Regions from separate parts of the Homo sapiens genome. Here region 1 is linked to region 2. Evidence: fine-mapped expression QTL. A gene starts in region 2. The other region holds a variant in brackets. All regions are shown on one strand. Distances are between the middles of the regions. Region 1 overlaps RASA3 (RAS p21 protein activator 3). Region 2 holds the start of CDC16 (cell division cycle 16).

The links.
Region 1: its variant is fine-mapped to the expression of CDC16 in substantia nigra (GTEx, PIP above 0.99).

The regions. Positions count from the first base shown.
Region 1 is chr13:113,976,911-113,979,818 of GRCh38, reverse strand. It overlaps RASA3 (RAS p21 protein activator 3), which reads left to right. Exons shown (of 24, transcript NM_007368.4): 24 at 397-2,036. The coding sequence ends at 472. Among named protein-coding and RNA genes, the nearest start is that of C13orf46, 4.3 kb to the right of the region's middle. RefSeq lists an enhancer at 431-931. The variant C/T (reference allele first, on the strand shown) is at 1,747.
Region 2 is chr13:114,233,039-114,235,917 of GRCh38, reverse strand. It overlaps CDC16 (cell division cycle 16), which reads right to left and starts at 1,021. Exons shown (of 18, transcript NM_001078645.3): 1 at 786-1,021. The coding sequence starts at 833. RefSeq lists a silencer at 703-1,062 and an enhancer at 1,173-1,222.

The DNA of each region.
Region 1 (2,908 bases), 260 kb after region 2:
CACGCCTGCTGAGTGTCCCAGCACTGGGACAGATCTGTGTCCCTGGAGCTCATGCTCCCCACACATGAGCACACTCTTTGCAGTGCAGATGTGCACATTCTGCACACGTGCCATACACTCTACATATTCCACATCTGCACATGTATATGCGCTACACACGTGCCACAGGGAGAGCACACGTGCACATGTACTTGCACGCCTGACCCACCTGTGCACACACATCAGAGTCACCGTGGGTGCTTCCGGGGGCACTGTGGTTCCTTTGGCTCCTCTATTTTTTGTGTGGATTGCAGTGTGAGTGTGTCACATTTAGGAACAGGAAAAGCTCCCGCAGCCACGGGTGAGCACCAGGCAACGGGGTCTGTGCCTCATTCCCTCTCCCATCCCCCTTTTCAGGGAGCACCCCATCGGAGACAAGAGCTTCCAGAACTACATCCGGCAGCAGTCCGAGACCTCCACTCATTCCATTTAAAGTCTGCGGGACGCGCCCAGTGGCGCCAGCAAGCTGCCCATGCAAAGCCGCAGCCTTTGGGAGGGAGAAGAGAAGGAAGAGCGCAGAGCCGGCAAAGTGAGATGCACGCCGTCCCGGCCCATAGACAAGTGGCGCTGGGGTTTCCCTCTCCCAGAACCGCTGCCACCACCGCCACGCCCTCCGCAGAAAGCCCACCTGGCCCTGTGGAACGTGTCGTCATTTGATTCTGTGCTTTTTGCTCCTTGTTTGTGGGGATCTGGGGATCAGCTGAAGGATCAGGAAGTGTGGGCTGTGCCCTAGCCACACCACAGCCAGCCTCAGGGAGCCACGGCCCGTCTAGTCGACTGTGACATGCACCTCCGGCCGTGTGTGCGTCAGTCTCGTGCACGTCTGTCTTGCGTGCACGGTGCGTGTGACGCTGGGCTCTGTGGCTCTGTGCCCGGGAGGCCTGCTGGCCCCGCCTCGGCTTTCGGCTTCATCACATTGGGAGGTTCAGAGCATTACTCTCCCACTGTGCCTGCCATCCAGGCAGCCATGGGAGGCGGCCTCCCTGTTCCACTTTCGAGGTTCGTTTGATTCCTGGCTGAGGGGTCAGTTTTATGGCTGGGAGGTGCAGAATTACACAGAAGTCCCAGTCTGAGGATGTCCTTGGTGCTTGGGGGATACGGGTTCTGTCCACAGAGTCCCTTGGAGGGAAAGGTGTGGGCTCCAGCTTCTCCAGGCGTCTGCGGAGCCCACAGTTGAAGCCCACATCGTTTTGCTGTTGAATGGGGTTTAAAATCAGAATTAACATTTGCCACCCCCCGTGGAAGTTTGAAGATTTTAAAAATAGAAATGTACATTTTTCAAGCTGTTTTTCTTTATGTTTTTGAAGGACCATTTTTAATTAGCTCTTTGATACAAAGTAACTCAGAACGTCAAAACCTATACCCACTAAAGGGAAGGCTGCCGGGAAGGCAAATGGAACAGGAATGGAGCCTGTCTCAGGAAGGCCAGCTGCAGGTCCTCCAGAAAATCAAAGAAGGGAAGAAACTCTGAGTTTGAGGTACAGGGGCTTCGGGGTGCAGACGTCCCTCCAGGGCCCATGGTCAGTATTGCACCTGTGTTATGAACCCCCAGATGCTGTGCAGGGCAGGGGCGGGGGCTGCTGTTTTATTGGGGAGGGGAGCATCCTAAAAATGGGGTCCAGGCAGACCCCTCCAGACCTCACACTGCCGAGGAGGCCTTTCCCAAAGGGCGTCCTCCCGGGATGCAGACGGCAGGTGTGTGGGAAG[C/T]GCCGTTTAAATACACAGCACGACGTATCCTTGTACCGACTTCTCCCGGTTCTTGTTTGAAAATACTGTAGTTCAGGCTCTTGATCTAGATGGCAGATAGGAACTTTCTTGTCACAAAAATACTGGAGGAAAATGTTGTAAAAATAGACTTTTGGACACACAGCTGTTGGGGCTGCACTGAGCTGCAATTTTTAACATGGATTTATAACTTAATGTTTCTGTTTATAAAATACTAATGATTTGCAATGTATTTTACTGGCCAATTAAAACAGATGTTTTATTCTTTCTGAGGACTGCCTTGGTTTTCCAGTGGTACCCACTGGGAATTGCACATGTGGGCATTAGGGGTGGGGGGTACAGGGAGGAGGGTGGCACCTGGGGAGCAGGATGACATTGCTGATGCCAAGTGACGTCCCTGGTGATGGGTGATGCTGCTCTGACAGGTGGCACTGCCCTGATGACAGGTCACATTGCTGATGCCAAGTGACATCTCTGGTGACAGGCAGCGCTGCTCTGACAGGTGACAGGTGACATCGCTGGTGACAGTTGACGCCTCATGACGGGCAGCGCTGCTCTGACAGGTGGCACCGCCCTGATGACAGGTGACATCACTGGTGACAGTTGACATCTTTGGTGATGGGCAGCGCTGCTCTGACAGTGGCATTCACCTGTGGTGCCTCAGGTGAGAGTCCGGCCCTGTGATAACCTCAGGAAAGGTGTGTCCACTCAAGGAGTGCTGGGCAGACAGACCACCACGTGCTGCCATCTCCAGGAATGCAGAGGGGGAGGCCACTTGGAGGCCCTGGGAGAAGAGAACGGACTGCGCCTCTAGGCAGGTGGCTGCTGTCCCTCCAGGCAGGAGAGGGTTAAGGGGGGCTCTGGGTGAAGACTCCATGATACGTTGCCTCATTTCTTTATTCCTTTCCTTGCTCCATTTGAATTCCTCTTTTTTGGTAATTCTATTGTGAGTCAGCTCTGGTATGAGAAAAATGAGGAGGTGTGGCTTTGGGGACACCAACCCAGGCCTTTCTCCCAGGGAAGGGTGAGGCTTGGTTCAGCCTGGCCGGCCTCCTTAGTCCATGCTGAGGTGTGGGGTCTGCCCCAGTCCAGGAGTGGCTATGGGTGGTGGACAAACCCTTGCAGGTGGGGGCATCCTCCCCGG
Region 2 (2,879 bases):
GAAACCGGGCCTGTCATATTCCTCACTACGTCTCCGTACCGAAGAAAAAGTGATCAGAAAACACTGAATTCAACTGACTCATGGTAAATAAAAACACAGCCCTCCAAATGGACTGCAAACATTTGGCCACGTCAGTTAGCACCCAATTCCGAAAACTCTGCATTACCATGGCTTTTCTTTCCCTTTCTTTCCAATTTCCTGAAAGAGCAAGCATTTCAACAAAAAATAAACAACAATATAGATAAAACTGATGCTGCTGATTCTCGAAGACACTTCTTGCCTTAAACGCTCTCTGCTATTCAAAGGTAGTGCAGAGAACACAGACATAGTTAACGAGAATTTTTAAAGTATTGATTTGAGACAACAGGCTTCTTCACATCTTTATTCACTTAAATTCAGCCCAGTAAAAATTACAACTAAACCTCTCAAAAATGTTTTATTAGCTAGCCCTGCAACTTTCCTCCAAAAATTGTCCTTCAACTTGCACTGAGTAGTCAGTGTTTCCTGGGCACCTCCTCCGCGCCAGGTGCAGAACGAGGCTCAGACCCGACTGAGGCGCCCCGTGCGCTCGGGGGCCTCCACTCCCCGGGCTGTGCCCCTCCCAGCTGCAGGGACCGCTCCCTTCTGGGCGAGGCGGAGACAGCGCTGCTGGCCCCAGATGAAGGCCCAGGGCCGGCCCAGTCCTTCCCCACCAAGAGCCCCGACAACAGTCACCCCAGCCCCACGCCGCGCGGAAAAAGACCCGGCGAGGCCTGGGCCCCGCACCCCGAGTCGGGGCCGCCCACCTGGTCGAGGTACTGCCGGACGCGCTTCCGCAGCCGCTCTAGGTTCATGGCGGCGCGGGCCCGGCCTCACGCCACACTCCGCCGCTAGGCGCGCGCCTCCTGCACCCTAAGCACCCCGCCCCGTGCCCGTGCCCGTGCCTGCAGCCGCCGCCGCCGCCCCAGGACTCGAAGGCCGCGGACTCGAAGGCCGCAGGTCCCCACCCACACCCGCACCCCCCACCCAGGCCCCGTGCACTGCCCAGGCTCTTCCGCTCCAGGCAGGCCCCGCCCCGGAAGTCCACAGCAAACGAATCCCATCTGGCGCGGGAAAACGGACCCGAGTTGTTGGTTCCGATGCCTCTCCTGGCACGTGGGCTTCTGGTTGCCTTGGGGCGAGAGCGCGGCCTCCCTGGAATCGCTGCGGCGCCTCTGGGCATTGGCGAGAGAGTCAGGAGGGCTCGGGGCCGGACCACCCACCCGGGCAAAAAAGCAGGTGGCTGCTGAGCCTTCTTTCCCCAGAATGTAGTCAACATTTTAAAAATAAGAGCAACGCACTCTCATTACAAAAAAAAAAAATTGTGTGCACAAACAGCAAATGAAGTCAAAGACAACCTAGGGAAAAATTTGAAACCTATCACAAAATTCGAATTTCCTTATAATGTAGAGCCAATATTCCCTTTACATATATGTAATAAGTCAGTGGGAAGAGACCAATGGCTCAGGAGAAAGACAGGCAAAAAACAGTTCACAGGGAAAGAAATGCAAATAGACTTTAACATACGAAAGAAAGTCCAACTTAATTCATAATAAAAATTAAAATTAGAGTACCACTTTTCATATGTTAACAAAGATCACAAAGGTTGATGACACTGCTAGCAGGAATGTCGGGAAGCAGGCACCCTCAAGTTTTGTGAGTGGTATTGGTATACTCTCTAGGATGAACGAATTGGAATATCTTCCAAATTTAAAGGTGTTCGTGCTGTTAAACCTAATGATTTTTATTTTGGGAAATATACCATGGATTTGCATTTTTGCATGTGTGCAAAATGACCTGTGGTTTCGTTTGTAATAGCAAAAGATTGCAGACAATTTAAACACCCATGAAGTATGGAACTGAGTAAATAGGTCATGATACGCTCACGTAATGGAATACTCGCTGGCTGTTCAAAAGAACAGTCAGCTTTGCATGGACATTGAACGATCTTCAAGATATAGTATGTGGGAAAAAGCAAGTATAGGATCGTGTTTATCGTATGCCTGCATTTGAGTAAAATACGAATTTAATGATAGGTAGAAAAATCCCTAAACTGTCCCAGGAAGGAAAAATGAGAAAACCGGCATAGCGCAAGGCCTCTGGAAGGAGTGCTGGAAGATGAGAGATGGTAGAAGTGGGAGAGGTACTTCCTTGGATATCTTTTTGTGCTTTTGAATTTCAGTCAATGTGCATATATTACCTTTTGTGAAATTAAATCATTCAAACTTAAAATAATTTAAACTTGAAGCTGTTGGAACTTTGAATTACCTGAGCCTTGAGGGGAATGTGGCTACGCGGCCTAGGTCATGCCACACCCAGCTGTAACTTCTGCCTTTTTCCCTGTAAACAATAAAGACCAAATGGCACCGGAGATAAGACCCCCTCAGATCACTACCCCTCCTCATGGAGTTATAACGCAATCTTCCTTCAAATACAGAGATCCCTAACCAATGGAACCGCTGCGGCGTGTGCCCCTGGTCTCATATGAGAACTGTGGTGATCCTGCTGGAGCTTCTGTCTCCGCCTGGTAAGAGAGACCTGAGCTCCACTTGGAAAGGCTGACCCCATTTGTCCAGGTGGCCATTCTCAGGCTCTGTGCTCAAATACACACTATATGTAATCATATTTCTGAATCTCAATATTAAGGTTGACACTTTTAAAAAGTAAATATAACTTTTATAAATATAAAAACCTAAAAGAGTAAAAAAAATTCAAAGAAGCAAAAAAAAAAAAACTTGCTGTAAAGAATCCCACCCACTCAAAAATTCTCTCACGCTACTGTAAGTAATCTGCCGTGTAATTTTCTATGTGTGTGTATACATATATGACTGGGTAATATTTTGAAGTTGTGTTTAAAAATT